3 separate regions of the Homo sapiens genome follow, and regions 1 and 3 are each linked to region 2. Evidence: fine-mapped expression QTL. A gene starts in region 2. Each other region holds a variant in brackets. All regions are shown on one strand. Distances are from middle to middle.

Region 1 (10,914 bases), 110 kb before region 2:
TATCTCCCAAAGCCTTTAAGAACCCCTGATAAGAGCAATGATTGACTGGAAACTTCTAAATACCTCATGGAAAGCACTATGACCATAAATTTCCATTCTGATTCAAAAGGAAAATCAGCCCAGAAAAGTCCTTCATTTCATACTGCCTCATGATTTCTCTTTCTGTTGAATTGCAAAGGGAGACAGAAAGCAGTAGGGTGCATGGGAAAATGGAAAGGAGAATCAGTACTAGAAGGCGTTAGCATAGATTCACCTTTGGCAGAAAAAAGACTTAAAAGACTTTTGATACCTGGAGAAGTGAGTTAAAGGACTCACTGATTCAGATAATCTTGGAAAAATTCTAAGAAAACATTTATGGTTCTGAAGCTTGATAGAAATTCAAGTTTAAAGAGCGATTTGGTAACCCCGTTAAAGTGAAAACATTTAAAGATGGGTGATAATTTAGCTATCATTTACCCTTGAACACACTGTGACTACCCATTCAGAAGTATAACTGCATAGGAAACGTCTGAATCCGCAGTCTCTCTTGTTCCGTTCACTTTGCCTGGGAAATTTCTGGTTTGGTGAAACATAAGATGCTCATCCAGGTACCATGTGGTAGTCTACCTCAATGGTGGGCATCATACACTTAAGGCAATGCCCCCATCTGAAGTTTGTCAGGAGTTCAAGACCAGCCTGGCCAACATGGTGAAACTCTGTCTCTACTAAAAAAAAAAAAAAAAAAAAAAACAAAAATTAGCTGGGCATAGTGGCACATGCCTGTAATCCCAGCTACTCTGGAGGCTGAGGCATGAGAATCACTTGAACTCGGGAGGCAGAGGTTGCAGTGAACTGAGCGCGCCATTGCAGTCCAGCCTGGGTGACAAGAGCGAGATTCCATCTCAAAAAAAAAGAAAAAGAAATGAAGTTTGTAAATTCAAACCATGATATGAAGGCAAAAGTCAAATATCGCATTTGGATAAGGCTACCAATCACTGTTAATGCCATATCTGATAGGTATTATTTCAAGAACTGCAGACTCGTATAAGAAAGTGATCTTTGTCCAGCCTGTGTTCGCAGTCATCACTTACTTCTCCTGTGCCCCATTCTCTCAGCGGTCACTTGCCTGGCTAACCAATCTGACAAAGTATGTCTGTATGATGAAGCTGATAAATGTTAGTAGCTAAAACAGGACATATCGCCAGCTTCACTTATTAGCTGTTGGACCTTCAGTGTCCTCACGGGAAAAGGGGGATAATACCTCTTAGATATATTGTGGGGATTAAACAAAACTAACACATAAAAAGCCCTTAGTGCAGGGCCTGGCAGACAGTAAGTACTCACTAATAATAACCATTTCTATTATTCTTTCCAGAAACAACATTGTTTAATCATGGGCTTCTATAGCTTAACCACTCAGCTAGGAGACAATTCCAGATGAGAGTATCCAGTAGATTACCAGTCCAGTTGGAAACTCCAGAGTAGACCATCGTCTGGAGCTGTCACCGTGCTCAGTGTGCATTATGTCGTGTCACAAGAACAGCTGTCTACGCAAGTTACTGCCCAAAGCGGAATTTTATGTAGAAGCATCTACTATAAAGAAAATGGAGACTTACTATTTGTCCAAGCATTGGTCCTGGTGCATTCTTTCACCATAGGATCATCTAACAAAATCAGAGGGTCACAAGGCTAGGTAAATAAAGGTGTTATTATGTGAAGTCAATTTTTACTATTTGTCGATACTGGAAGGCTGTGAGTTTTTCAGTACAGCTGAAAATCAATGTGTCTTCAATAGAGGAAATCAATTTCTTGCCATGTTGGTACTCGAAGAGCCATATCCTACATGACATTTGCCCTAGAATCCTGTTATTGGCTAGAAAATTCTGAAGTTATAATATCTGAAAAGTATAGCCATTAAGGAATACTTCTAATGCTAATATAACTCTTTTTAGTGAAGGATGAGTTAAGATGAAGGAATAAGCAGAGGAGGAGGAAGAGTAGAAGGAAGAAGGGTTGGGGGAGGAGGAAGAGGAAAGGAGGGGGAGGAAGAAGAGGAGAGGAGCAGGGGAGGAAGAAGAGGAGATGGGGAGAGGAAGCAACTATTCACTTTCACACACACTGGTACCTTTCAATCTCCTCTTACTACATTGATCAAAATAAGTTACTTACTCTTAAAAAACAAAACGAAAACCTTGAGTTGGATTCTAGATTCTGCTCTACTGATGTCATTACAAGCCATGTAGATGTTGTATAATTAGAGAATTAATTTTAGAAATAAAATGTTTCAGGCTGCCAAACATAAGATTAAAATAGACATTGGACATGGGAGTTTAAAAAGCAATGAAAATAAAATGAGAGGTGTGTGTATGTGTCATGCTAAAAAGTCCAAAACAGAAATTTCAACATTAAAGCCATAATAAGGTTTAAAAAAAAAAAAAAAAAAACCCAACAATGAAATTCAGGGAGGACATTTCTCCCTAATACTAGCCTGGCAATTTGGCAATGGGGGAGACGCTCCTAGGGAGAAAAATGACTTTAATGCTTTGACCTCCATCAGGAGGATGGATGACGTCAGTGAGCCTTTGGTGAAGAAAAGGAAAGACTCAAGAAGACCTCTGAGGACTTCACTACGACCAAACTTTTGGGAACCTGAATTTCCCAATACCTCCACACGCAGCCTACCACACACACTCATATTGGGTGTCAGGACTTCCACATATAAACTTGGCGGGGTGCGGGGGCGTGGGGGGACACAAATATTCCATCCCTAATGGTAACTATTGTGAAATATGCCCAGAGGAGTTTCAAAAATAAAGGCCTACTCTCCAGAGTGGAATCCAAAAAGACTTTACCAGAGCCTTATCCACCTGAGGGAAGGACATTCCTCCTACTCTGGCCCCCTCTAGCCTTCCTATCTCATTATGGGAGCTTTTTTTTTTTTCTTTAAGAAAATAAAAGCTAAGAAACACTTGTGAAGGTCATAGGCCATGAATGCAAGCCCACTAAGAAACTGGTATGTAGTCCTAAGATTACAGAATGTTTCCCCTTCCCTACACCTTAGCACCATACCTCACCAGTAAAATAACAGATTACATTAGATTACGTCTAAAAGAGCTGCAAGATGCAAACTCTATCTGAGGAGTTCTTAGGGAATCCCAAAGACAACAGGGGAGACTGAAACAATGACGCCAGAGGAATTTGAAGCCTCTGGCACCTACAGCTACAGCAAATACTAAACACAGGCCAACTGTAGTCTGTGATTAATCTAGTCTAGATTAACATAAAACCTTATACTAAAGGTCTATTACCCAATCCATTATTTTCAGCTTTCAATGAAAATTACAAGGCATGCTAAAAGGCAAGAAAAAACAATTTGAAGAGGCAAAGTAATAATCAAACCAGATAAATACTGGACTTATCGGATAGGAAATTTAAAATAACTATGATTAATATGTGTATTAGGGTTCTCCTGAGAAACAGAACCAATAGGATAAATAGATAGACAAGAGGGGATTCATCAGGGGAATTAAATCTGATTATGGAGGCTGGGAAGTCCCATAGTACGCCATCTGCAAGCTGGAGAACCAGGGAAGCTGGTAGCATGGCTCAGTCCAAGCTCAAAAGCCTGAGAATCAGAAGAGCCAACAATGTAACTCTCAGTCCAAGGCTGAAGGCCTAAGAAACTGCGGGACTGCAGATACAAGACCCAGAATCCCTAGGGTGGAGAACCTGGAGTTTTTTGGGTTTTTTTGTTAGTTTGGTTTTTTTTGTTTTTTGAGACGGAGTCTTACTATGTTGCCCAGGCTGGAGTGCAGTGGCATCATCTCGGCTCACTGCAACCTCCACCTCCCAAGTTCAAGTGATTCTCCTGCCTCAGCCTCCCAAGTAGCTGGGATTACAGGCACCCACCACCACACTCAGCTTATTTTTTTGTATTTTTAGTAGAGACAGAGTCTCACCATGTTGGCCAGGCTGGTTTCAAACTCCTGACCTCAAGTGATCCGCCTGCCTCGGCCTCCCAAAGTGCTGGGATTACAGGCATGAGCCACCGCACCCAGCCAAGAACCTGGAGTTCTGATGTTCAAGATCAGAAGCAGATGAATGTCTCAGCTCTAGAAGGGAGGGAGAGAGGGAAAAGGAGAGGGAGAGGGAGGAAGGAAGAGAGAGAAGGGGAGAGAAAGAGAATATGAATTCATTTCTCCTCTCCCTTTTTGTTGTATCTGGGACCTCAGCTGAC[T/C]GAATGGTGCCTGTCAATATTGGGGCAGGGCAGATCTTTCTTATTCAGTACGCTGATTCAAATGCCAATTTCTTCCAGAAACACCCTCATAGACATACCCAAAAATAATGCTTTTCTAGCTATCTGGGTATCCCTTCTAAAGTCAAGTTGACACCTAAAATTAACTATCACAGTATGTTAAGAACACTGATGGGAAAAGCAGACAATATGCAAGAACAGACAGGTAATGTCAACAGGGAAATGGAAACTGTAAGAGAGAATCTAAAGGAATTGCTAGAAATCAGACAAACAGAAGTGAAGAATGTTTTTGATGGGCTCATGAGGAGACTAGTCATGGCTGAAGAAAGAATCAGAGAACTTGAAGATAGCTCAATAGACACCTCCCAGATAAAAATGCAAAGAGAGAAGAAAACAGAGTGGGAGGTGGGCAGAGAAGAAAAAGAGAGGAGGAGGAGGAGAAGCGGAACAAGGAAGAGGAGGAGTAGGAAGGAGCAGCAGCAGTGACAGCAGCAGCGACCTTCCAAGAACTGTGGAATAATTGCAAAGGTGCGACATGTGTGTAACTGAACAGAAGGGGAAGAAAGAATGAAGCAAAAGAAATGTTGAAGGAATAATGACCAAGAACTTTCCAAAATAAATGACAGACACCAAAATACCAATCTAGGAAGCTTAGAGACCACCACTAAGCACAATAAATGTCAAAAATACCTACACCTGGGCTATCATATTTATACTGCTGAAAGCCAAAGTCAAATAAGAAATTTTGAAAGAAGCCAAAAGGAGGGAAACATCTATAGAGGATGAAAGTTGCAGCAGACATTTTGTTAGAAACCATGCAAGAAGAGAATGGAGAAAAATATTTAATGTGTTAAATGGGGGGAGTCCACCAACATAGATTTCTATATTCAGCAAAGTTATCCTTCAAAAGTGAAGAAAAAATAAAGACTTTTTCATACAAACAAAAACTGAGGGAATTCATTGCCAGCAAATTTGCCCATCAAAAAAATGTTAAAAGAGGTTATTCATAGAGAAGGAATATAGTATAGTCAGAAATTTGTATATATATAGAAAATTTAAAATCTAGGTGATTAATATCTGGATGGTGTGTGACTGCAGGCACAACAGCAAAGGAAAAAAGTTACTAAAGAAAGTTGTACAAATTTGACTAAATAAAAGTTTCAACCCACAATAACATAAGACAATTAAAAGCTATGCAGACTACGAATCAGGGGAAAATATTTACCACAAATCTAAAAAAAGTATTAACACCCTTAATAAATAAAGAGTAAAAACTAATTGAAAGGGACATTTCCAATATCACAATAAAGAAAAGGGCAAAGGGGATAAGAATAAACAAGCCACAGAAGCAGAATTAATGTTCAAAGAAATACAAATAAAATTACCTATCAAGTTAGCTAAAATTTTTAAAAGATAGTATTCATGAGAAACAAAAGCAATGTAACACTCTCACACTTTTTCAAAGGTAACTGGCAAAGGTAGAAAAAGTTCTAAAATCATTTATGTCCACATTATTCTTTGACCTAGAAATTCCATCTCCAGCAATCTACTTGAAGAAAACAGGATATTTTAAAAGCATATAGAATATTTCTACAAACATTTTCATGGCCCCATATTTATAATAACCTCCCAAAATAGAAATATGAGATATGGTTACATGGTCAAATGAGGTATATTACAGCAATATATTATTAGGAAAATATGCAGATATTGAAAAACCAGTGAATGTTTAACATGAAAAAAAAAGTTTATTATATAAAGCCTGGTGATCAGAGAGCAAACAGATCTGTGTATAGAGAACATTTAAATATACATAATTTTGAATACATTATACAGATACATACAAAATGTAAAGAAAATACTATAAAATGTTAACAGTAATTACTCATGTTGAATGAATTGCAGATGATTTACATATATATCCTACTAAGCATTCATCAGGTTCATAATTAGAAAAGTATTAGAGGCTGGGTGCGGTGGCTCATGCCCATAATCCCAGCACTTTGTGAGGCCGAAGCAGGAGGATCATCTGAGATCAGGAGTTTGAGACCAGCCTGGCCAACATGGTGAAACCCCATCTCTACTAAAAATACAAAAAATTAGCCAGGCATGGTGGCATGCACCTCTAATCCCAACTACTCGGGAGGCTGAGGCAGGAGAATTGCTTGAACCTGGGAGGCAGAGGTTGCGGTAAACTGAGACTGCACCACTGCCCTCTATCCTGGGCAACAGAATAAGACTCTATCTCAAAAAAAAAAAAAAAAGAAAAAGAAAAAGAAAAAGGAAAGTATTAGAGGAAATTTCTCTAGTATTAATACCCTGAAAGTAGGCAGAAGTTAAGCAGTAAATTCCTTCAGATTTTAAAGTTTCAAAAATATGTTACTCTAATCTCTATTCTAGCACCATTTTACATTTTTATAATTTAGCAGTAGTTCTATCATTAGTGATAGAAACAGATATGGAATCTTATCTACTGACCCCCCAATACAATGACATTTCTACTCTCATACACTGATAAGTATAAAATTTGATCTTCCTGGGAGGTGATATAAGTAAGATTACAAAATAGGATGCCCCAGATCTCATTCCCTGCCCACCCCCCACAGACTTACCAACAATATATTGTACAAAATGCCTTTATAAGACCTCCAGAAACCAGTTATGAAACCACAGTGCCCCTAGGCAAATACAAAGTGAAGAACAGCAGAATTAAAACAGGTAGGAAAAGTCATTTTATTTTGCTATTCTTAGCCTTTCCCCAGGCTGGCACAGCTCAATGAATTGGGAGAAAACAACCTACTCAGAGCTTCTCCTTTGGGAGGAAAAGAGGAGTGAATGCACATCCAGTGTTCCAGTTTTTCAGGGGGCTGCCTAAGAGACTAGTTTCTGTTTTGCTTAACACAGACTCTAACGGGAAACTGGTATACTTTGGACATCTAGGGCTGCAGAGAACAAAAGAACTTGATGTTTTCTTGCTGTACCGGAGAACCTACAGTACTGTGGAGTGTCACAGAGAAAGCAAGAGAACACAAACTGTTGAAAAAGAAATTAGCAAACTTCTCTAATTGGGAAATTACATGCAAGCCCAGACAAGACACATCTCCAGAGAAGGTCGCAGAGACCCTCAGAATCTCTAGCCAGGCTGACTGGTAAAGGTCTTCCCCTACACAAAGCCAGTCCATTAAGACTGGAAGAGCTGGTTGTTGTAGTTGTTTTTCAAATGCCCAAATCCCAGCAAAAATCAATGCATATGAAGAATCAGGGGAACATGGCCCAATCAAAGGAATAAAATAAATCTCCAAAAGCAGATCAGAAAAACAGATATCTATAAATTACCTGACAAAGGATTCAAAATAACCATCTTAAAGAAGTTTAAAGAGTTAACTGGGTGTACAGACAACCAGCAATAAAAAATAAACCATCCAAAAAATGAAGAATGAATAAAATGAGAATATAAATAGAAACTATTTTAAAAAAGAACCTAACAAATTCTTGAGCTGAAGAATACAACAACTGAATTGGAAGATTTACCAGAGGAGTTTAACAGCACACTTGATCAAGAGCAAAACAGAATCAATGAATTTGAAGATAGGTCATTTGAAATTTTCTAGTCAAAGCCAAAAAAGAAACAAAGAAAGAAACACCATTGAGCAGATCAATATACACATTATGAGAGTCCCTGAGAAAGAACAGTGAGAGAAAGGAGAAAATAATGACTGAAAACTTCCCAAATCTAGGGGGAAAAAGAACATCTAAATTCAAGAAAGTCAATAAACTCCAACTAGGATGAACCTGAAGAGCCTAAACTGAGGCACATTATAATCAAACTGTCAAAATCAAAAACAAAGAGAGAATCTTGAAAAACAGCAAGAGAAAAGTAAGTCATCATGTACATGAAATCTTCCATAGGATTATCAGCAGATTTCTCAGCAGAAAGTTTATACGCCAGAAGGAAGTGAGATAATATACTCAACATGCTAAAAGAAAAAAAAAAGCCAACACAAAATACCATGGCCAAAAAAGCTGTCACTCAAAAATGAAGGAGAAATAAACAAAGGCTGGGAGAGTTCATCCCCACTAGACCTGCCTTACAGGAAATGCTAATGGAAGTCCTTCAAATGAAAGGATCCTAGATATCAATATGAAAGCATATGAAAATGTAAGCTCCCTGGTAAAGGTCAATATATAGACAAATACAGAATTCTGTAATACTGTACTGGTAGGTTGTATGTCATTTTAAATTCTGGTATAGAATTTAAAAGATAAAAGCTTAAAAAATAACTACAATTATAAAACTCTATAAATGGATATGCAATATAAAAGGATATAGTTTGAAAGCTTGATTGGATATGCAATATAAAAAGGTATAATTTGAAAGATTGGTAACAAAGTAGGACGGGGGATGTAAAGGAATTTTATGTGATCAAAGTTAGGTAGTTAACAGTTTAAAATAGATTGTTACAACTATAAGATGTTTTTTGTAATCTCCATAGCAACCGCAAAGAAAATACCTATAGAAGACATACAAAAGAAAATGAGAAAGGAATTAAAGCATGTCACCAAAAAAAAAAAAAAAAAAATCAATGAAACACAAAAGAAGGCAGCAAATAAAAAGGAAAAAGGAAAAGAGGAATAGATAGATACAACATATACAGAATACAGTTAACAAAATGACAACAGAAAGTCTCTCCCAATCAGTAATTGCTTCAATGTAAATGGATTAAATGCCTCAATCAAAAGACAGAATGGCTGAAGGAATTAAAAAACAAGACCTCACTATCTGATGTATACAAGAGATTCCCTTTAGATATAATGGCACACATAAGCTGAAATGAAAGAATGGAAAAAGATATTCCATGCACATAGTAACCAAAAGAGAACAGAGGTAGCTATACCAATATTAGACAAATAGATTTTAAGTCAAAACTGTCAGAAGAAACAAAAAAGGACATTATACAACAATAAAAGGGCCAATTCATAGGGAAGATACAATAAGTATAAACGTGAGGCCCTAAATCGTTCAGGATCTATATCCCTCCTATAAACTAGCCCTAAAACTGAGCTCTGTTGACTCTCACCCTCACAATGTCAACTACCAGCTTATCTTTGCGGGTACAGGACAAGGACAAGACCAGAAATTATCTCTTCACCTACCCTGAGATTAATGCATAATTGACTTTTCCTCTGCTTCCTCTTTTTATGTTTACTTCAACTTATTTAGTAAAATGTAGATTCACTGAGTATGAGATGAATATGTAATTTACTTTTTTCATCTACTCCCTCTTTTGACATGTAAAATGTAGATTTGCTACAAAAAGAGACTTTTGTCAACCTAATAAAGGACATATCATTGGAAAACCAACAAGGATCACATCTAATGATGAAGACTGAATGCTTTCCTCCTGTGAATGAAAACAAGGCAAACTTCTATCTCCATTCCTATTTCACACCATACTGGAATTCCAAGCCAGAGCAATCAGGCAAGGAAAAGAAATAAAGATATCCTGACTGGAAAAGAAGAAATAAAACTGTCCCTGTTCACAAATGAAATTATTGTTTACATGAAAAATCCCAAGAAATAGCATACATACAAACCTCCTACAACTAATGAATGTATTTAGCAAAGTTGTAGAGTACATGTAAAAAAATGGATCATATTTTTATGTGTTAGCAATAAGGAGCTGGAAACCAAATATTTTTTAAATGCTGTTTAAAATAACTCCAAAAATGATATTTAAAACAATTCCAAAAAATTGAAATACTTACATATAAATCTAATAAATATTTATGTAAACAATTAGAGGGTATGCTGAAAACTATAAAATGCTAATGAAATAAAGAGGACCTAAATAAATGAAAAAAACATACTATGTTCAAAATTGGAAGATAGTATTGTGAAGATGTGAATCTTCCCCTAATTAATCTATAAATTTAGCACAAACCTAATCAAAATCCCAACAAGATTTTTGTAGGTAGAACTAAGGTGATTCTAAAGGTATATGGAAAGGCAAAGAAACAAGAATAGCCAAAACAATTTTGAAAAAGAACAGAGTTGGAGGAATCACACTTTTCCACTTCATCAAGGTTTCTATAAAGCTAAAGTAATTGAGATCAAGATAGCATGGTTGGCCGGGAGTGGCTCAGACCTGTAATCCCAGCACTTTGGGAGGCTGAGGCAGGCGGATTGATTGAGGCCAGGAGTTCAAGACAAGACTGGCCAACATGGTGAAACCTCGTCTCTATTAAAAATACAAAAATTAGCCAGGCATGGTGGCATGTGCCTGGAGTCCCAGCTACTTGGGAGGCTGAAGCAGGAGAATAGCTTGAACCTGGGAGGCAGAGGTTGCAGTGACTGAGATTGCACCATTGCACTCCAGCCTGGGCAACAGAGCGAGCCTCAATCTCAAAAATAAAATAAAATAATAAAAAATAAAGACAGCATGGTATTGGCAAAAAGATAAACATGTAGATCAACAGCATAGAATAGACTTCCAGAAATAAACCTACAGAAATATGGCCAACTGATATTTTAATTGAAGTATAACTCACATACAGTAAAATTCACTGACTTAAAGTGTGTAAATTGATGTTTTGACAAATGCATATGCCCACATAACACACCCTGTAACGTGTATTCCCATTTCCATTACTTCAGAAAGTTCTGCTCTGCTGCATATACC
Region 2 (10,914 bases):
ATCAGGTGAATAGGATGACCTGTTCTGTGGACACCACTCAGCCTCTTTCCCCAGCCACCCGTCACCACCCAATGGGCCCATGAACAAAGTGGCCATGGTGGCAGGGATGGAGGTTATGCATGGGCTCAGCAACACGGACTTCCACTCACCAAGGCTGACCTGGCTATGATCACTGCTGAGTGCCCAAATTGCCAGCAGCAGAGACCAACACTGACCCCTCCATATGGCACTATCCCTCAGGGTGATCAGCCAGCTACCTGGTGGCAGGTTGATTATACTGGACTTCTTCCATCATGGAAAGGGCAGAGGTTTGTCCTCACTGGAATAGACATTTACTCCGGATATGGGTTTGCCTATCCTGCACACAATGCTTCTGCCAAGACTACCATCTGTGGACTCACGGAATGCCTTATCCACCATCGTGGTATTCCATGCAGCATTGTCTCTGACCAAGGCACTCACTTTATGGCCAAAGAAGTGTGGCAGTGGGTTCATGCTCATGGAATTCACTGGTCTTACCATGCTCCCCATCATCCTGAAGCAGTTATATTGATAGAATGGTGGAATGGCCTTTCGAAGTCACAATTACAATGCCAACTAGGTGACAATACTTTGCAGGGCTGGGGCAGAGTTCTCCAGAGGGCCGTGTATGCTCTGAATCAGCATCCAATATATGGTACTGTTTCTCCTATAGCCAGGATTCACAGGTCCAGGAATCAAGGGGCGGAAGTGGAAGTGGCACCACTCACCATCACCCCTACTGATCCACTAGCAAAATTTTTGCTTCCTGTTCCCAAGACATTACCTTCTGCTGGCCTAGAGATCTTAGTTCCAGAGGGAGGAACACTGCCACCAGGAAACACAACGATTCCATTAAACTGGAAGTTAAGATTGCCACCTGGACAGTTTGGGATACTCCTATCTTTCAGTCAACAGGCTAAGAAGAAAATTACTGTGTTGGCTGGCATGATTGACCTGGACTATCAAGAGGAAATCAGTCTACTACTCCACAGCAGAGGTAAGGAAGACTACATATGGAACACAGGAAATCCATTAGGGCATCTCTCAGTATTACCATGCCCTGTGATTAAGGTCAACAGGAAACTACAACAGCCCAATCCAGGCGGGACTACAAATGGTCCAGATCCTTCAGGAATAAAGGTTTGGGTCACTCCACCAGGGAAAAGAACCTGCTGAGGTGCTTGCTGTAGGCAAAAGGAATACTGAATGGGTAGAAGAAGGTAGTCATCAATACCAGCTACGACCATGTGACCAGCTGCAGAAACAGACTGTAATTGTCAAGAGTATTTCCTCCTTCTTTTGTTAAAAACATGTTTGTGTATATATACACTCATACTAAGAAAATATCTTCATTTCCTTTTCCTTTATCATGTGACATAAGATTTATTGACTTCACAACAGCATGTAAGTATTGTTAACTTTATGTAATAGTATTTGCATTGGGGATTGGTGCATTTCTGGTTGTACAAAGGATAGTTGTATTATGTTATGCACAATTTTGACCTCATTATTGTCTTTATTTGAAGATTATGTATGATCTCAGGAGATATGTATGGGTTCAAGTTGACAAGGGGTGGGCTTTTGATGGTTAATACTGAGTGTCACCTTGATTGCATTGAGAGATACAGAGTATTGATCCTGGGTGTGTCCGTGTGGGTGTTGCCCAAAAGAGATTAAACATTTGTGTCAGTGGGCTGTGGAAGGCAGATCCACCCTTAATCTGGTGGGCACAACCTAATCAGCTTCCAGCGAATATAAAGGAGGCAGAAAAACATGAAAAGGAGAAATGAGCCTAGCCTCCCACCCTACATCTTTCTCCCATGCTGGATGCTTCCTGCCCTCAAACATCTGACTCCAATTTCTTTAGTTTTGAGACTTGGACTGGCTCTCCTTGCTCCTCAGCTTACAGCCAGCCTATTGTGGGACCTTGGGACCATGTAAGTTAATACTTAATAAACTCCCCTTTATAGATATATGGTATATGTACATATATCATATGTATATATATCATGTATAGCATATATATAGCATATATGTATATATGATATATATGTACATATATATATATATATATATATATATCCTATTAGTTCTGTCCCTCTAAGAGAACCCTAGTACACTTAACCCTCTAGTTTTCACTGTCACCAAACCAGCAGTCAGCATCATCCAGGGACTTGTTAGATATGTACCTTCTCGGGCCCCATCTCAGACAGAATCAATCAGAGACTCCCAGGATGACCCCCAGGTGTTTCTGTGTTTGAATAAGCCCTCTTCAAAGATCATTCTCATGTCAAAGCAATAAATACGTCATTAGCTTAATTAGTTAAATCTAAAAGTACCTTTTGCCCTTTAGGGAAACAGAGGCCCAGAGGCCACAGGAGAAGTTGGAGTAACTGCAACCAGAACTCAGGTCTCCCACCCACAATGGCCAATGACCTTTCTACTTCTTTTCTGATGCTTTAATCCCTAAATTCAAAAGGAAGCCCCAAGCATTACCAGCCCAAAGTGCAAACACTTGTTTTCAAAGAACAGAAAAAGAAAGAACCTACTCTTTTTGAAAATAAGGACCACCAGTAAAAACTAATATCTGATCAAAATCATTCTGTAAACAAGCAGTAAATTCCCAAGCCTTTAACACATTTCCAAGTTATATTTCCAAGCTATATTTTATATTTATAAAAATGTGTGGGGGAGGGGGACTGGGTAGAAATAATTGACTAGAATAATATTTGGAAGAATATACAGTTAAAGATATGTTAACAGTGGCTCCCTCTCCCTAGCAGATTATGGATAACCTTTATTTTTTTCTTTGTATTTTCCTGAACTGTTTCAATAGCTAAATATTACTTTTGGAATCAGGGGAAAAGTTAAAATTGTTTTTTGAAATATTATATCCATATCACTCAACACGAAAGTTGATTTTGTAATTCTATTTCTTTCCTTACAGCAGGATAGTGTGTGTATAGTAATTATTTATATCATGCCATATGTTACAAAGAAGATGAAATTTGGTAAATATATTCCTTCCAGCTGGAAACTGAAAATGAAGAGGTTAAATGCATTCCTAGGTTCAGAGCAATACCAATTAAGACAAGCTAACTGCAAAGCTAAAGGAAAAATTAATCCCGGTATTGAGATCTCTGACAGCATCCTTTTGAAAAATGTTTATGTGACACACAGCTCCTTATTCCATCCCCTGATATTTAACCCCTGGCACGAAACAGAATGTTCAGCAATTCCTGGCAAAGTCTTAGGAGTTCAGGGGATAAAATGCATGGGAGAAGATGAGAGACATAAGAAATGGAATGATTCTACTTTCACACAAAATTATGTCCCTGTAGACAAAGAGACATCCAAAATTACTGGCAAATTGTCCACAGTAACCTAAATTTATTTTTCTTTCTCAAGAAACGTCTACTTACTTCAAAAACATCTATGTTGCAGATCTTATTCTGCAAGTCAAAAATAAATAAATAATTAAAATGGACTCATTTAAATAAACATTTCTGCCACAAAAGCATTGTCATAATGTTTCACTTGATAAGATGAATTTATTGCTTCAAAGAAAATCTAGTCTTGTTTTACTGAAACTCTCAGCAATATAAATTCAGTGAATGTTAACTGAAATTCCTTAAAGAAAATCAGAAGTAAAGTTAAGATCTGCCAGAATAAATATATAAAAGGAAACACTGGTGGCCTCTCTCCTTCATCACAATACCTCCCAACAGCTGACATTTATAGAACTTGCAGACTCTTTCAGGAAAGGATGAGTTATTGGGAATAGACTCTCTCTACATATATATAGTTTATGGTGCATGAGATCATATTTACAGGACAATTTAGCTTAAGAGTGGTACAATATCAAAGAACTTAGAATTTATCATCTATAGCATGCGAGATTTGGCTTGCAAAGGTTTCTCTCTCAAGAGTCTCACCAAATGTCCCTCAGCCCTCTACTTTCCTTCACAGAGTAGTCCCACCCATTGAAAAAGTGATAAATTAAGAATAAAGAATATACATCTTACAGAAAGTTTCCCACCATAGTCCCAGTTCCCACTCTATGTAATTACCTATTTGCCTATGAAAATTGATATGTAAGAGCCGTGTTGTCAACACATTTAACTAAACCTAACAGTTTCCTTTCAGTCTTAACACTTTTTGACAGACCATACACACACAAACTTGTAGCTCATTCTCTAACTCCATTTTGATACTTACAAGCCCAGTTCTTCCATCTCTCACCCTCCCTGGAAAGAAAGTCCAGTGGAAGTTTTACCTAAACTTGATTATTTTTGCGTTTTTCTTTGGGGTTGTTAAAGGTATTGATCAGAACTCACCTCCCAAGCATTGATAATCCCAAGCCGACGAGACCCCAAATATCTTCAGTTTGTAACATAGAAATGCTACTGGTCTCAATGACAGAGAAGGAAAATAACGTTCCTACTCCGTCAAATTAAGAAACAAAAATGAAATACAGCAGCTTTCATTCTGAACAAAACTAAATTTTCTGGGTCACTTTCCCTGTCTCACTGGGCCACTTCTTTACGCAGCCTGCTGGTGACTGTAAACACGGTCTCTTCACTCCTCACGCAACCAGTTCATTTGTCATCCTCTCCAAGCGAATAGCCACCGCTTCCTTTGCTAGCGCAGTTCCCAAACAACAAACCTCCCCACCCGCCCCTGCCCTCCACACCTCACCGCGGAGACTCGCTTTCTTTTCTTCCAAACCACAAATGGGCGAGCTTGTTCAGGGAAAAAGTTAATGAACGCCTGATTAGAGGCAAAGCTGCCCTACCTGCGATCACAACATCGGAAGACTGGAAGTATCTAAAAGCGCCATCCTCTGCGCTCTCGTCCCCGTCGGTGTGCGCTTCACACCCAGAAACCCAGGAACATGATTTATATGCAGACCTGCACCCATCCCACACAAGTCCACACGCCAGCTTGCCTAACCACTTATGTAAGCTCGTGCTTCCACAGTCCCAAACTGCAGACACACACACACGGGCACCTGTCACGCATCTGAAATGGACAAGCACCCACACCCAGGAGATGAAATCAACACATATTAATGGGGTGGGGAGGGAGGATACTGTTTTAAACCATGTTTTTCCCCCATTTGTTTCTTGCCCATTTTTTATCACAACTACAATTACCTTAGCAACCAAAGAATTGCCTTGACTCTCCCTCTGGCTCCAGAATTTTTCCTAAAGCCAACCTTGCGCCAGGTTCATGATAAAGCTGGAGAAGCCCAGGGAACCGGGGACCGGCAGCCTCTTGGGGGCGGAGGGGAAGTCTAGTCCGTCTCCGCGCCGCTCCCCACAGCCTCGCCTCCTCTTTCCGAGTTTCCGTGGTGGCGAGCGCAGGGGCTCAGCGAGCGAAGAGCGAAGCCCCGGGCCCGCGAGGACGCGCGGCGGGTCGCATGGTGCCGGGACTCGGGGCGCACAGGGTGTCCCCGGCGCGCTCCGGGCTGGCCTGGCTCTCCGCGCTCCCAGGCGTTCGCCGCTTGCCCGCCTCTGCCCGCCCCGGTCGGCAAGGGTGCGCGGAGGTCTGTCCGTTCCCTCGGCGCCTGGCGGCTCCGGCGGCTGTAGGAACGCGGCGCCCAGGCGGAGCTCTCGCCGCCGAGCAGGGCCGAGCGCGAGGAGCTGCCCCAACTCGCGAAGCCGTTCAGCTCCGCGGCCCGCGAGCTGCTGCAGCGGCGCCCGCTGTCGGATGCCGAGCGGAGCTGCAGCCCCGTGCCCCGCGCACCTGGGCGCCGGCACCTGGGCCCCGGCACCTGGGCCCGGACCGCGTGCTGCAGGGAGGGGCCGGCGGGCGGGGACCGGCACCTGAGCGCGTCCCGCGGGCGCCGCCGCACGGCTCACCTGTTCCCAGAGCCGCGGAAGGCGCAGACCGTGATTTGCTCGAGGAGGAGAAAACCTAGAAATGCCTCATCCTCAAGAAGCCGCCGAGAAAACCGAGAGACTGGCTCGACCGGGCGGAGGCTGCTTTCGTCAATTCCAAACTGGCCCGGTCCGGAAACTTCAGCGGCGTCAAGGTTCTCTTAGGGATTCCCGGCCCGGGGTGAGGTGCCCGGCGGCTTCTGAATCTCCCTCACTGACGTGTTGCTGGCGCCCTCTAAATTAAAACGGGACACCGCGACCGTCAGCGATATTGTTCCTAACCTCGTCATTTTTATGTATTCAACATGCACACCACACGCTGCATTTGGAATATTACAGGATGATTCCTATCTGGAACACTACAAAAGAACTTTCGAGAAAAGTAACTCTCAGATATTCTTGGGGGAAGCAGAAAAAAGTCGAAGACAGAAAATGAGAAAGTAACTTGAACTGATGCCTTTCTTTAACGTGGGAGTTTTGAAATGCGATGTGTACTTAGATTCAAAAAGCTGCAGGTGGAAATAGGACAAGATCACTAGTGCTGGACGGTAACCGTGGGATTTGTGTGCAATATCAATGCTATCAATATCAAGAATAAATTTGAGATTTAGTCCTGAATTGTAGTATGTCACCAGAAAAGGGGAAAAATACTTGAAATAAAATACCTAAATGCCTTTAACGATGGATGACCTGGACTCCTCATTCACATGGGTCCAGAAGTTAAAGAGTAAAGTCTCCTTCCCAAATTGTGTCTTTTCCCGCCATTCTACATTGATTAATGGATGTATTCATTCTTTCCTTCAATAGACAAATAGCACCTGCTCTGTGTTAGACCCTCTTCTAACATTAGAAATGGATAATAAAGGAAGCAGTCTCTGCCCTGAAGCCTTCACGTCGAATGGGATAACACACAAGCAGACATGTGTGTTATGGTAGGCTTAGTACACAGAAAGGCGGGGGGTGGGGGGAAACCTGCAACCAAGAGAAACCATACCCAGCCTAGTGAGGAAAATAGAATTGTAACAGATGTCCCAGTTGTTTATTAAAGCTGAAATATAAAATCTTTCTTTCCTCAGGCTCAATACTTGGCTCAAGCCGGTTGTGGAGCTGGCTGTGGCCGTTTGTCACAGTTAAAGAATAGGCTGTACATGGAGCGAAAGGTAGCAACTAGGGAAACTTCCGCTTTGAGGAGCTCTGCTTTTTTTTTTTTTTTTTTTTTTTTTTTTTTTTTTTTTTTTGAGACGTAGTTTCCTTCTTGTTGCCCAGGCTGGAGTGTGGTGGTGCAATCTTCGCTCACTGCAACCTCCGCCTCCCAGGTTCAAGCGATTCTCCTGCCTCAGCCTCCCAAGTAGCTGGGATTACAGGTGCCTGCCAGCTAATTTTTTGTGTGTTTTCAGTAGAGATGGGGTTTCACCATGTTGGCCAAGCTGGTCTCAAATTCCTGACCTCAGATGATCCACCCGCCTTGGCCACCCAAAGTGCTGGGATTACAGACTTGAGCCACCACACCCAGTGGGAACTCTGCATTTCTGAGGCTAGCAGCTCCTTGAGGGCCAAGTACAGCATGAAGGAATAATACTGTGGAAGTATAAACAGCAGGCTCCAGGCTCATCAGAAGAAAGCCTTACTGTGTACTTCTCTTTAAAAAAAAATATGTGAAATCAGATATTTATAGGAATTAGATATGTATTTTCATATTGATACATTTTGTGTATTATATGGGATTCCTGATATATCTATGTAGTATGGTTTCTTATACATAAAATATCTGATTTCATATGTATGTGTATGTATGTGGGGGGTATTTTATATATATATGTATGTAATAGAGACAGGACACATTTTTTGCTGACATGGCCAAGAGATTGGTTTATGTGCTAGGGAATTGAGCAAAGAAGTAAATACATTAAGAAAATTGGAGCCAGTCATCTCACTGCTGGAGAAGGGAATTACCAATACAGAAAGGCAAGAGATCTAGCTATGTGCCTTGAAGTTGGAGATGAAGGTGTAAAATGATTTTGGATCCAAAGAGATTATAGATAGATAGACAGAAAAATATAAGTGTATATGTGTGTGTATATGGTGATATATTTCCTAGGTTTGTCGACTGAGAAGGCCTAAAAGCAATGGCACCCCAGTAGCAATGAACACACCTAACACTCAGACCTTGGTTTCTTAATACCATCCTCCACTGAAAGGAACCACAGTTCCTTGGTATAGTGGATGAAACTAGAATAATTTGTTGTGCAAGGAAATGAGAAAATACTTAAAGAATTATGGAGACATGTCAAAAGAAGACAGAAGTCAGCTTGAAGGGGTTCCTGTTGGCCAAATCTTGAACTATTTAAGGAGTAAAATAGTTAATGACAAATTTAACCCTTTGAGTAAAATAAGAGTCCATGAGTCCATGCTGATAGAAACAGAGAAGGGAACTCTATAGTAGAATGCGACTAATAAATGAAGAAGAAAAGATAGAATTAGAAAACCACCATTTGGCAACCACCATCTTAATAATTGATTCAGGCCAGAATCATCAATAAATGCTAAAATTGGTGGGTAAAAGTTTGATGAGGAACAGGATATTTACATAGTCTCAAAGCATATCTCTAAAAATGTTCATTAATACATCATTAATTATTAATAAGTACAGCATACTTATTAACATGCAGCTGTAATACTTGGGAGGTATCATCTTAATCGACTGGTAAAATTTTACATAAATGAAAACCAGTGATGGGACAAATCAGCCTTGTGCAGCATCCTGATATGATATGCTGAGAATGTAGTGTCACTTCTTATGCATAAATATGTAAGTTAGGATAAAACATCAGACAAATGCAAATTGAAAGAAAAATCAAATAACTGGCCTGTATTCTTTAAAAATGTCAAGACTATGATAGTAAAGATGGTTTCAGATTGAAGGATGCTAAAGAGATGAGACAACTAAATGCAGCATGTGATCTTGAATGGGATCCAAAACCTATAAATGACTTTTGTGGCACAATCAGTGGATTCTGTGGATTCAATGGATTAAAATGGATCATTGTTATTTTCCTGATGTTGTACTCAAGGTATGTAGTAGAGTGTTCTTGTTTTTAGGAAGGAGAAACTGAAATATGAAGTGGTAAAGGGGCATCACATCTGCAACTTACCCTCAGAAGATGGAAAGGGAGCTCTTTGAATTATTTTTATAGCTTTTGTAATTTATTATAACATTATTTCAAAATGAAAGGTTAAAAAACATACATTAAAGTATAAGTGTTCTTACCAAATTAAAAAAATTGTCTTCCCTTTTATAAAATGATCACCATGGGTTTATTTTAAGAATCAATTCATGACTGGCTGTACTAAAAATATGATTTGATCTATTACTTTGTGAATATATACAATAATGTGATTCAGCCCAATACTTTGTTCATTCATTCAGCAATTACTTATTAAGGGCACACTGCATGCAAGGATCCTGAAATTCATCTAAAGTATCAAGTGAAATAATATTTATAGGTAAAACCCTGATTCTTTTGATTACTTCATTATCAAGTGAGGAGTTGCAGGAAAATGTGTAATAGAATTGATTGGCGTAGCTCTCAAAACGGGTGATAAATTGAACAGAAGAATGGAAATGAGTTGGCAATTTAGTTTCAATAACTTCATTGACAGGCCAAGGTAGAAAACTATTGCGTCGATGCATTTGGTGCATGTATTGATATTGGTGGCTTTGGGGAGGATAATGAGTTTTGGGTCATGTGGCCCATTGACCAAGACTGCGCATTCATGACATTTGACAGCTGATGATACTTTTCCTCAAACTCCCACATTTTCTTATTTTCACTCTTAAATGTAGTCTTTTTCTGAGAGCTAAAGACTCTTTTCTTTGCATTTTGGCAATAAAAGGAGAAAAGATTCCAGGTCACTTTTGCTTCATGTTAAATCCTGAAAGAAAATAAATGCCTGATTAGACATGTTAGAAATTGGTTCTTTCAGAGAATGGCTCAAAGGGCACAGAATTAGTAACACCTGGGGTACTTATTAAAACTTAGCAATAAAGAGTCTTGAACAACCAGATGCAGTGGCACACACCTACAATCCCAGCTAACTCAGAAAGCTGAGGCAGGAGGATTGCTTGAGTCCAGGAGTTTGAATCCAGCCTGGGCAACATAGTGAGATCCTGTCTCTAAAAAATTAAAAATAAACAAAATTGGATCTGTTTCTTAAATAGATGGTAATCATTTCTGAGGTTTAAAAAAAAAGGATTCTTGGCCGGGCGCGGTGGCTCACGCCTGTAATCCCAGCACTTTGGGAGGCCGAGACGGGCGGATCACGAGGTCAGGAGATCGAGACCATCCTGGCTAACACGGTGAAACCCCGTCTCTACTAAAAATACAAAAAAATTAGCCGGGCATGGTGGCGCGCGCCTGTAGTCCCAGCTACACGGGAGGCTGAGGCAGGAGAATGGCATGAACCAGGGAGGCGGAGTTTGCAGTGAGTCGAGATCGCGCCACTGCACTCCAGCCTGGGCGACAGAGCGAAACTCCGTCTCAAAAAAAAAAAAGAAAAAAAAAGGATTCTTGAACTTCATCTCAGACCTGATAAGTCACGATTTCTAATGATGGAACCAGGGCATCTACTTTTGAACAAGAATTTGCGAATCACAGCCTGTGGGGCCCTTCCTTCATAGAATGCCCAGCATTTCTGTTACCACTAATTGCATAATCCCCATCTCAAGGAGACAGTATGGCAAGCAAATTGATTACAGTGTGAAGTGGATTTTTTTTTCTCTTTGCAATGTGAAGTGGATTTTTTCTGTTTCCAGTGTTAGCACTTGATCTACAGTTTTGAAAACCGTGTGTCTGAGAATGAATGTGTTTATATCACAGTGCTGGAATAGTTATGTTTTAAGACTTGGAAATAATGTTATGTCAGAGTGCAATGCATATTTACAAAGTCCCATGCTTAATAATCAGAATGCAGGGATGTGTATATGTACAGCCAATACAAATGGGATAAAATC
Region 3 (10,914 bases), 620 kb before region 2:
GAATGCCAGGTCCAGACTCCCCGGTCTCGCGTCCAAGTTGTGCATCTCCATTTTCCCTGCTACTCTGCATCCCTGTGTGGTGGAAATGCCCCCTTTTCACACCAGCTCTCTCTTCTCTCCCTCCTCTCATCTGACGGAACAACCCTGTTGCTCTTTCTTCTCTCAGCTTGCAGGAAATTCTTGGTGGCTTCAGGAGTGGAATGAGGGTGGCATTCTGCCTGTAAGGCCTCTCGGTGGCATGCCTTCCTGTGACCCACTTAATGCCCGCCTGTTCCTCTTCTCCTCCTCCTTCCCAAATGGACTCTGGCATCTAAGCTCTGGTTCACTCCAAATTAGGCAAAGACCAAAAGGCTCTAGGAAACAGGGACATGGCTGTGTTGCTATTGGCAACAAGTTGATGCTACTTTTTTCCAACTAGGAAATTCAAGTAACCCTTGACTATGACTACGGGAGACAGTGAAGCTGGAATTTAGTTACTTGATATTGTGGACAAAGCGGCAAGAGAAAGTTATTTGGTTGGCAGTATGTGATTCTCCTGAGGACCTATGAGGACTCTGACCCCATCCTCCTGAGGACACTTATCTCTTGCAAATGTGTTCACCCAAAACACGTACATTTCTTGGGGTCCTTGGTTTAGCCAGCTGAAAAGGCGGAGCCTAGAATTGCTGACCTCTCATCCCCCCACAAAAGCATAACAATTCAGTGAATGTCCATGCCCATTTGGATGCATATGCAAAGAGGGCCGGCTCATTTCTTTCTTCCCCACTATCAGGAATGCAATTTAGCAGGCACTTATCAGACATGGATTCCTAACCGGAGGAAGTACACCAGGGAACAGACTAAGCAGCGTTTTCAGGAGATACCTGGACAGAAACTTAGGTCATTGGAACTCTTAGCTACAGAGAACCTTATTTCCCTACAGGCTCTTTTCACGTGCTGCTGAGATGCTTTTGGTCCCCATGGGACAGAGGATGGGCGGTTTCCCAGCTTTTTTCTCCCCTGATGGTGTAGTGTGTAGAAATGTGAGATTGCTACGTTTCCTGCAGGATTTGGCCCAGGGCCCACAGAGGAAGAGTTATGGAAGCTTTCACCAGGAAATGAAGCCTAAGGATGCTGTTATTGGATTTAGAAGCATCTTCAAAGGTAGTGGGTATTCCCTGTTCTGCTAGGGAATGGGACTAGGAGAAGAGAGTTACTGGGTCAATATCTAAGGATGTTATCTGCACATTGCCTCTGGGACAAGGGACTCATCTCAGCATCATTTCTGGACCCCTCAGCTCCTTGTTTCTTAGGAGAGAAAAACTATGGGTACAAAAAATGGGCAGAAAAAACAGAGACACCAAGAAATGGGTGCTGCCGACTGTCCCTGGAACCAGGGCATGAGAACAGGAGTGGTGGGCAGAGACGATGCCATGGACAAACAGATCATCTCTTTTGGATTTTGGAACACCTTCTGTGCAGAAGGATTCCACAGATTAGAGAGTGTGCGAACGCCGGGATCACTCACCCACTGCTGGAAGGAAGCCACCTCGGGGGTGAAATGCAGCGGCCATTCTGACTCTGCGCCAGCAGCACTAGGCAATTGTGTTTTTAGGAAGGGAAGTGAAGAATAACTTATCCAGCTGAAACTGTGAAGACCTGTGGCTTTAGAGGAGCCCCTGCCCAGACACACACACAGCTGCAGAGGGCATGCAATCCATGCAACAGAGATACTTGCAGGTTTGCAGCTTATGGTTATATGCACACCATACACTGAACACAGAGGCGAACATCAGGCAGGCGGCACATGCACCTGTGTATACACCTGTGCACATGTGCATACACCAGTGCATGCGTTCATGTGCATGTTGAGACCACAGGCACTTACAGAAGCATCTCATGCAAGGTGCACAGGCAATCGCTTGTTTGGCTGTAGAGTTTTCTATCAGCTCCTAAGATGCCACTCTGACAAATACTGCAAACTTAAAGCATTCACCTTAAAATACATATATAAAAATGGAATTCTCCCCCATGAAAAAGGCATTTATTGACCTCATTGGAAATAAACAACTTCTCCACTTCTGTTTCTGTCGGTACTATAGGCAGTAGGAGTGCCCACCCCAGGGGTCCGGTTTATCAAGGAATTTCAAAGCATCCCCTGCCACGTGCTTCTGACTCCTCCACTACCTCGCTTTGGAATAAGTGGTTAAAAAAGAGAAACCTCTGTTTATTGGACTGACGGAGCAACTGGACTTGTTGAGGTTGCATTGCTCAGGGTGGCTCCAGGCAAGCAGACAGCTGAGAGGTGAGTGTTTCTGTCACATGGAGGGCTACATTTGGAGGAGTGGATTTCATCTTCTTATCTTGGGTAGACCCATTCCTTATCTGTCTCTGGTAGCAGGAGGCACCTTCGAGTCCTTCAACTCAGTAGGCGGCCAAATGCCAGATCCCCACAACACGTGCACCATTTGCCTGGTGGCCCTCCCCACCTCCCAGCACCTTACAGGCTGACAAGCCCCCCAGTTCCCACAGCTTCCCGGGAAGTGCTTAGGGGCCCCAGGAAATCGACCATAGAACAGAAGCTGGCCTGCTGGGCACCACAGTCCCTTCATTTCCAGGAAATGCAGAAAAACTAACTCTCTGAGTTGACTTTAAAAATAAGCCAACAATCATAGCTGCCATTTATTGAGTAGTTACCATGAGCTGATCTCTGTAATACATGCACCTTGTGCAGACTGTCATATAGGAGATACCCACGTACCCACCCTCAACCACAAGATGTATATAATGATGCCTATCTTGCAGAATATTGTTGGAAATTAAATAAGGTAATAAGCGCAGCCTAAGTATGAGCTGCAAATAATATCATAATGATGAAACTGATTCTAAGAGCTACACCTGTTAAGCACACGCACTGCACACAGTGTGCTAAGGACGTTATGCATTTTATTCCTACTTATTTACTCTTATCTCCCTTTTATGGATGAGGAAACTGAGGCTTAGAGAAGCTGTGCAATTCAAACAACTAAGTGATGGAGCTGAAGTAGAACCAAAGTCCATCCCAGGCAAAGCCAGCATGACACAGTCCAACACTGTGAGTGTGAGCTCCCAATAAATGGCAGCTCTTGTGATCACATCCTCATTGAATGCCAACATCTACCCTGTGCAGTGGGCTTTGTTGTACCTGTCAGACATGCAAGTGACTTGCCCAGGGTCACATAATATCAGGTGGAGAAAAAGGGATTCAGCTGGGGTTGCCTGTCTCGAACTTAGCTTACTTCTCTGCATTCTGGTGGGTACTAAAGGGACCGTTGTTCTCAAGGGGTCACACGAGCAGGCCACCTTCAGTAGTGGATGGGAATGCAGTTGGGGGAAATGTCCCTGCCACGTTTTTGACATTTAACTCCAGGTGGTTGGTGCTGCTCAGTCACAATCCAGCTCCTTGCTCTTTTGAGACACAGGTAGTGAGGTAACTGGCTACCTGCAGGGTAAAAGGCAGTCTGGTTGGTATGGGACGGTCAGCCACGAGCAGCCAATCAGGGACCTCTCAGAAACACAGTCCTGCTGGAGCAAGATGCACTTCACTGTGCGGGCATCTGTGTAGTCCCCAGGGAATATAGAAATGAGGGGAACCTGGATGAACCTGCTGAAGGGTGGGTCACGGGGCTCACACACACAAGCCACACTCCTTGATGGTCCTTCTCATGATGTCCTACAGCTATGATAACTATTCAAGAAAGCTATGAGCTGGGCACGGTGGCTCACACTTGTAACTCCAGCACTTTGGGAGGCCGAGGTGTGCAGATCACTTGAGGCCAGGAGTTCGAGACCAGCCTGGCTGACATGGTGAAACTCCGTCTCTACTAAGAGTACAAAAATTAGTTGAGTGTGGTGGTGCAGGCCTGTAATCCCAACTACTCAGGAGGCTGAGGCAGGAGAATCGCTTAAACCTGGGAGGTGGAGGTTGCAGTGAGCTGAGATTGCGCCACTGCACTCCAGCCTAGGCAACAAAGCGAGGCTCTGTCTCAAAAAAAACACCCCCCCAAAAACCAAACCAAAACAACAACAAAAAGCAAGCAAGCAAGCTATGATTAAAGATTAGCCAAGAATGAGATGTGAAGCTGAATCACTACCAAGGAAACCTCCATCAGGTGTAAAACCTCCATCAGGTGTAAAACCACCGGATTGTGATGACTCACAAAGGCTAGTGATTGATTGACTCCTTTAATTATTTAGAATTATGGATGCCTCAGAACCTTCTAGTATTAACCAGGACAGAGCACGTATCAGAATTCCCCCACCACTTTTGCTGCAGAAGATTACAAGGTTGGGTTAAGTGTTGTCTTGGATGCTCCATCTCCATTTCCCAGTGTAATGTGCTATGATGTTAAGGCCAGGCTTTCGGTCCTTGCTTGACAGTCTGTCTTTTCCTGTTAGGCACGGGGGCTCAGATGTACTTGGTGCTTAGTGCAAACAAAAAAAGCCAGGGGCATGGTGTGGAATGGTTCTCCAGCCCTGTCACTAAGTACAGGTGCCCTCTGCCTCCCTGCCTTCCCTCTCCCCCACCTCTTATACCTAGGCACCAACTGCACCTGATAGAGTTTTAATGGAGTATCTGAGAGAACATAGTAGCAATCAACCCTGACTGGGCTTTCTTTAGCTGTAAAAAGTGTCTTATTAAAACTTTGCTGACTTTACCGGGATCGCCATGTTTAATGAGAGGCCTCAAAGAATTTGAAAGCAAAAGATG[G/AAG]AGAGGAAAAAAGTCACAAGCTGTAATCACCATAATTACACAATCCCACGATGAGTTGAAAGCAGCCCTGGTGAAGCCCAAGAGAGGAGGGAGTGTCATCGGCAATCGGGGTGGTTCTTAGGACAGCTGGAAAGAATGTGACATGGGAACCCTTCCCTTTCCCTGAGCTGGGCTGAGGACAAGTCCCCCTGGCAGGGCCCTAGAGGAGGGAAGCCAGGGTGGGGGCATAGTTTCTCCTCAGTCCGAGGTCTCTGGGGGGTTTTTTGTGGGATGGGGATGGAGTTTTGCTCTGTCGCCCAGGCTGGAGTGAGGTGGTGCAAGCTTGGCTCACTGCAACCTCCGCCTCCCTTGTTCTAGTGATCCTCCTGCCTCAGCCTCCCGAGTAGCTGGGATTATAGGCATGTGCCACCACACCTGGCTCATTTTTGTATTTTTAGTAGAGACGGGGTTTCACCACGTTGACCAGGCTGGTCTTGAACGCCTGACCTCAGGTGATCTGCCTGTCTCGGCCTCCCAAAGTGCTCGGATTACAGATGTGAGCCACCACGCCCAGCCGGCTGAGGTGTTTTTGATGTTAGCTCATTTACCTGGAATCTGGAACTGGCATTGGGTAAAAGGCAAATGACTTTATGATCCTTTTTGCTTTCAACAAAACACCCTTTCCGGATGGGAACTATGACAGGATGAGTTTTCTTCAACCTTGGGCCAGGACGCCCCACGCACATGGCCACCCTGGCTGTGCTGGGGCTCACTGCACGATGGTTGCCAATGCCCTGTGCCAGTGGGCGCCTGTGTCCTCCACTTGCTGACCTCCTTTCAGACATTCGGGAGAGAGAGCCCTGTTGCCCAGAGCTCAGCTGCTGCGGCAGCAAATGCCAAAAAAAAAAACAAAAAACAGAAAAGAAGGCAAGGATGACATGTGAAGGGCAGTAATTCCACTTCCTGACGGTTTCCCTTGCTTTGAGTGTGTCATCTTGTGGCTTTTTCTCCCTCAAGGCGGAGTCTAGTCCTGAGTCTTTCAGATCCCTCTCCTCCAATCTCAGCAAACTCCTTCCTTATAATTCATTCTCCTTTTCCAGGACTTATTTATAAACCACAGAATGAAATGCAGTCGGATCCATTTAACAAGTATTTGGGGCAGCATAGAATTCCAGTTGCAAAAGATCATGGGATCTGGTGTAGAAACCTACTCTGCACTATCCTTGGCCATTCAGCTTCTAAACGGCTAGACATGGAGCTCGTTGCCCTTTGAGGGGACATAGTCTATTGTTGGAATATTCTGTTATTGTTAGAATATTTTTAGTATCTACCTATCTATCTTCTAGCCATTTGTTCTAGCCTTGCTCTCTGGAGCAACCCGGAAGTGTCCACTCTTGAAGACAAATGCAAAGAGCTCACGGTGGCCATCAAGTCTGCTGGGGGGCTAGACATTTTTACTCCAGCCTCTTCCGACGTGGCTTCCAGGGTCACTTTCTCTCTCTAGCTCTTCTCTCTCAATTGTCTCTAGATGTTAAAGTTCCTGATAATGTGGGGGCTTAGAACCAAGACTTAATATTGCTTAGAGCAACAAAAAGCAATGGAACACTTTTCCTTTCCCACTTTTGTTATATAGCCTAAAGCTGCCCTTTGGAAAGCAGCTGCATTCTGCATTTGCTTACACTAAGCTTATCGTCAATTACAACCCAAGAAATTTTTTTTTTTTAAACTTGATTTTTAGGAAAGGCTACAAATGCCATCCTGTAGTTGGGAAACTGAATTTAAAACACACACACACACACACACACACGCGCGCACACACACACACACAAATATGATCTGGTAAAATGCTATCTGTTTTTGACCCATCATCCCAGCTGCGGGAAATGCTTTCCAAATATAATTCCATTATCTACCAAATGAGCCACACTTTGGAGGTCTGGATCTTTGAATGTGGTTGGAATGTTTGTCTCTTCATCCAAGTCATCAAAAAGGTTATTGGATGGGCCATGGCTGAACCCTTGTGGCCCGCTCAGAGACTGCCTTTCCAGCGGACATAGACGGATTAATACACCCTCTCCCCTGCCATGAAGACGCTGAATATACTCACTTCACCTACAAAGGGGCAAACAGGGACGTGGAGGTGAGCAGGGGGAGGGAGGCAGGAATGGGCATTGCTTTCACCCTTCTTGTGCTGCTAACAGGCCACATATGAGTATTTTCTGGAGTGGGAAATGTATTTTTTAAGGTTACCCTTCTTAACAGTAAGCCAGACCGCCACGGGGGGTGTGGAGAGAATCTGCCAAATATTACACCAATGAGGCCCATTCCCGTATGTGGCCATGGTGCTGTTGCTCATGCTCAGGCTGATACAATGTGGCCATGATTAGGGGGCATGGAAGAACCGCTGCCCTGTGGCCCTGCCACTGCTGGGGTGGCTCCATGCTTCCAACCCCGTCTCACCTTCCCACCCATTGGGAAGCCACTAAGCAAACACCCAAGGGTCTTTCTCTCATCCACCTTTGGGCAAACATGACAAAACTAAAAATCCCACTGCTCTGAGTCCCACCCCCGGCAGTGTCCCATTTAGCCACACTGCAGGAGGGCAACATCTTACAGGCTATTCCTACCTATGGACAGGTATCCTGGCCTCCTTCCAAAATGTCATGCTTTCCTAACTCAACTCAAACCAGGGACACTCATCACTATTTTAAAAGGGGGAAGCATCCCCTGTTGTTTCCACCAGGAGCTCATTTTGGGGGGACTTCCATGGGTCGGGGGGGGGTCTTACTTCTTAGCCTTTGAAGTCCTCAGACTTGAAGCTCTCTGACTTCTCTTTGAACTTTCCAGTCTGGACCACAGGCAGAGTTGGGTCTCCTCTCCTTGACCGTGACATTGGCAGTGCTGTCGCCTTGCCAGACTCCTGCCATTGGATGCTCTTTCTCTGGCCCCCTCTGCTGCGGTGCTGCTGCTCCCCGGACAGGACTGAGGCAGGCTCTGTCCTAGGCAGAGGCGGGCATCCTGTCTTCTGAGTGGTCGGCCTTCCCGCTGTTTATCCTGCGGGGGGCCCTGCACTCCCCTTCACTCTCTGCCTTCTTACTAGGCAGGTGGGAGCCCACACAGTTCCCATGTGGCTGCACGAGGATGGCACTGGGGTCTGACTGCACAAGTGACAAGCATGCCGAGACCCCACAACCCCATCAGCCGCTTGTAAAGTGAGAGCACCTTTCCTGAGAGTGGGTGGGAGGAAGGCACTGTCATGGCGAAGGCCTGCAGGTCACCTCCCGAAATAGATCCCTGCTTGGCATACACACACTTTGCCCCCAGCCTGCCTTGCTAGAGACTGGCAGGGTACGCGATTTGGATCTGAATCAGTGGCTGTAAACACACAGCTGTGTCTTTCTGCCTCAGAGGATTTGATTTTCACTTGACTGCTTGGCACATTGGGGTCTGGGGAAGGCAGGAGAGGGCCTGGGCGGGGGTCGAGGGAGGGCCCACCAGGGAAAGCCAGGAGCAGCTGCCTCCACCGGGCCCTGATTGCCCCACATGTCCAGAAGGTGAGTCACCAGTGGGGTTTTTCTCCAAGTGGGCACTCCGTGGGGAGAGCATTTTGGCTGCTTTTGGCGGACAGGTTGAACCATCAGCGGGAACAGCTGGGGGCTCCTCCTTCCAACGGAAACGTCAGGGTCTAGGGCCCAGTGTCTCAAAAATGACAACCAACTTCTGGCCTTTTTTGATAAAAGTCTCGAGACTCCTGTCAACCCCGTGAGGAGCCACTTTGTCTTCTCTGTACCCACCAGCCATACTGAGTCTGTTGTTTTACATTTTGTAGTTTATAAAAAATAGACTTTTATATTTTCATTTTCCAGCTACAAAACTATAACAGTAAATATGCTTTTCCTAATTTCACACAGAGTCAAGATAAGAAGCGAAGCATAGAGGAGTTGTAACCTGGTCTTAACCACGGACTTCACCACTGATTGTAAACAGGATAACACTGTCTCTCATACTCTTATTTCCCATCGCTAAAAGAGGACAGCAACAAGCTGGCCCAGGGTTCCCTGGGGAACCAGAAAGCCTGGTAGCAGGTGAGCAGCAGAGTGTGCTGAGATTCCCAAGTGCTCACATTTCATTCCTTCCTATACCCATAGGGCCCCTGGGACCCCACAGTGCATGCAGTGATGCGGCAACACCGACCCTGGGGTCCACCTTTCTGCCCAGCTGACCCCACCTGACACACACACACACAGCTGGGCATCCAGACCGGAAGGGTGGGGACTGCAGAACTGGCAAGCTGAAGGGTGTAGGGCACTCACCCTGTTCTCTGTGAGTCCTCCCTGACCCTCCGGCGACTCACCGTGGACGAGTGAACCCTGAACAACTGAGCAGGGCCTGTGGTGTAGGTGTGGGGAGCCTGGGGCACTCAGTTCTCCTGCCAGTGCATGTCCAGGCTTTGTAAATACACCCAACTCAAGTCTATCCACAGTTTATTTCCCAGCCTCACAGGCTGGCAGGCACTTCTGAATCAGGTAACTAACTGGGCAAGAAGACAGCTCCTCTCCCATTCTAAGGAATGAGTTATATAACTCAGAAATCTCAGGACAGAGGGAAGCACAGACCTGCAGAACACCGCTAGCTGGAAGGGACCATCGAGACGACCTAGTCCAAGTCATTTCAGAGGAGAAAACCAGGGCTCAGAGAGGGCTAGTGATTTGCTTGAGGTCACATAGCTAGCAAGCTGAGGCTGGAAGCAGGAGCCAGTCTGCAGGAGGGCTGCTGAGGTGTCTCAGAGTCCCAGGACATGCACTTGCTGCTCCAGAGAGGCAGGTTTCCCTGCTTTCCTTCCCAAACACTTCGATGGAAGTCTCCCTCCAGCTCCAGCCAGGGCCAGGGTTTCACTGCAGCTGGATCTCAGTGCTCTGAGATGGGAGAGGCTGGCACTAATGTTTGTGACCCAGTGGTCCCAAAGGAGTCCAAGGACTGTTTGCAATAAAAACTAACCCTTTGGAAAGATTTTTAGCCAATTGGCCCTTGCCAGAGGCACAGAAAGATCATTTCAACTGAGGTCAAAGCCCTCTGGGGATTCTGCTGAGTCTAGGTATTTGGGAACTCATTCCACCAGGGTGCAAGGCTGTTCCCCATGAAACCTTGAGGAGGAGGGGAAAACAACACCGCCTTCCTGGGGGCAGGAGCTGCTTCTGCCGGTTGGCTGACTGCCCTGATTGCCTGCCTGCCCCCTCCCCTGCGGAGAGCCTTAGCCCTCCACTTCCGGTCAGCACCTGGGCCTGGAGCTGGGAGTTTCTCTCTGCAGAGCTGCCTGGAGGGGGATGAGTGAGCTGTTGACTTCTTGGCTCTCATTAGCTCTTCCTTGGCTTTTGGCAGGGGAAGGAACAGGGGGATGGAAGGAGGGGGCGAGGGAGGCTGAGTGGCAGCTGGCTCCCAGAGCTTCCCGCTCCCCATCTGACTTGCCTGCTGCATTCCTTGGCAGGCAGGCAGGACAGGAAAGCCTGTCGCAGAGATGCCACCCATCACATGCCAAGCCTTCTGCAGCTTCCGGCCCTTCCTGCCGCAATTCCAAGGAGCACCTTGGCAAAGCTAAACTTCGATGCTCTCTTAGGAGGTGGATGAACGCCTGGTCCTCCTCTCCCTTCTCCTCCGTGGCCTCCAGTGCTTGCTCTGGCACCAGCAACCCCATTTTCTATCTATCTATCTTTGGAGCCCAAGGCTGGAGCTGATGAAGCTCTCAAGAGGGCAGGTAAGGTTTCAACTGAGCCTCCAAAGGTACCCAGGGAGGCTGACACCAGCCTCACTCGGGGCTGCCATTTTCTCCTAACTTCAGTGCTATCACCCTCTGCGGCTTTTTCTGTGGAACTGGACAGAGGAGCAAAGGACTTTCTCCAGCTTCTCCTCCCCAGATTGGAGCTCTCACCAGATGGCTTCAGCCAGTATCTATCTCAACAAGGGAGCTGCTGCTGTGGCTTGGCCCCGATTCCTCTTGCCCCCTCTCCCTCCCACGCATGCTCCTGGTCCTCTATGTCAGAGCCAGGCCCTCTTTGGTGAGGCCCCCCACCCCACTGTGGTAGACTCTGTGGAAGCTGAAGCAACAAGCACACTTAAGAGAGAGCAGAGGGCGGGGTGTGGTGGCTCATGCCTGTAATCCCAGCACTTTGGGAGGCAGGTGGATCACTTGAGGTCAGGAGTTTGAGAAC

Evidence for each region. PIP is the estimated chance that this variant, and not a neighbour inherited with it, causes the effect.
Region 1: its variant is the best candidate, but not a certain one, in a credible set for the expression of RGS6 in lung (GTEx, PIP 0.89).
Region 3: its variant is the best candidate, but not a certain one, in a credible set for the expression of RGS6 in whole blood (INTERVAL, PIP 0.84).

What each region holds. Positions count from the first base shown.
Region 1 is chr14:72,037,714-72,048,627 of GRCh38, reverse strand. All of the region lies in intron 2 of RGS6 (regulator of G protein signaling 6), which reads right to left. Among named protein-coding and RNA genes, the nearest start is that of RGS6, 110 kb to the right of the region's middle. The variant T/C (reference allele first, on the strand shown) is at 4,217.
Region 2 is chr14:71,927,205-71,938,118 of GRCh38, reverse strand. It overlaps RGS6 (regulator of G protein signaling 6), which reads right to left and starts at 5,690. Exons shown (of 18, transcript NM_001204424.2): 1 at 5,178-5,690. It overlaps LOC124903404 (translation initiation factor IF-2-like), which reads right to left and starts at 6,193. Exons shown (of 2, transcript XM_047432046.1): 1 at 6,094-6,193; 2 at 5,229-5,950. The coding sequence starts at 6,193. The coding sequence ends at 5,229. RefSeq lists silencers at 5,442-5,601, 5,622-5,901.
Region 3 is chr14:72,543,950-72,554,863 of GRCh38, reverse strand. The region is part of intron 17 of RGS6 (regulator of G protein signaling 6); the gene reads right to left. Among named protein-coding and RNA genes, the nearest start is that of MIR7843, 33 kb to the right of the region's middle. RefSeq lists an enhancer at 9,265-10,043. The variant G/AAG (reference allele first, on the strand shown) is at 4,730.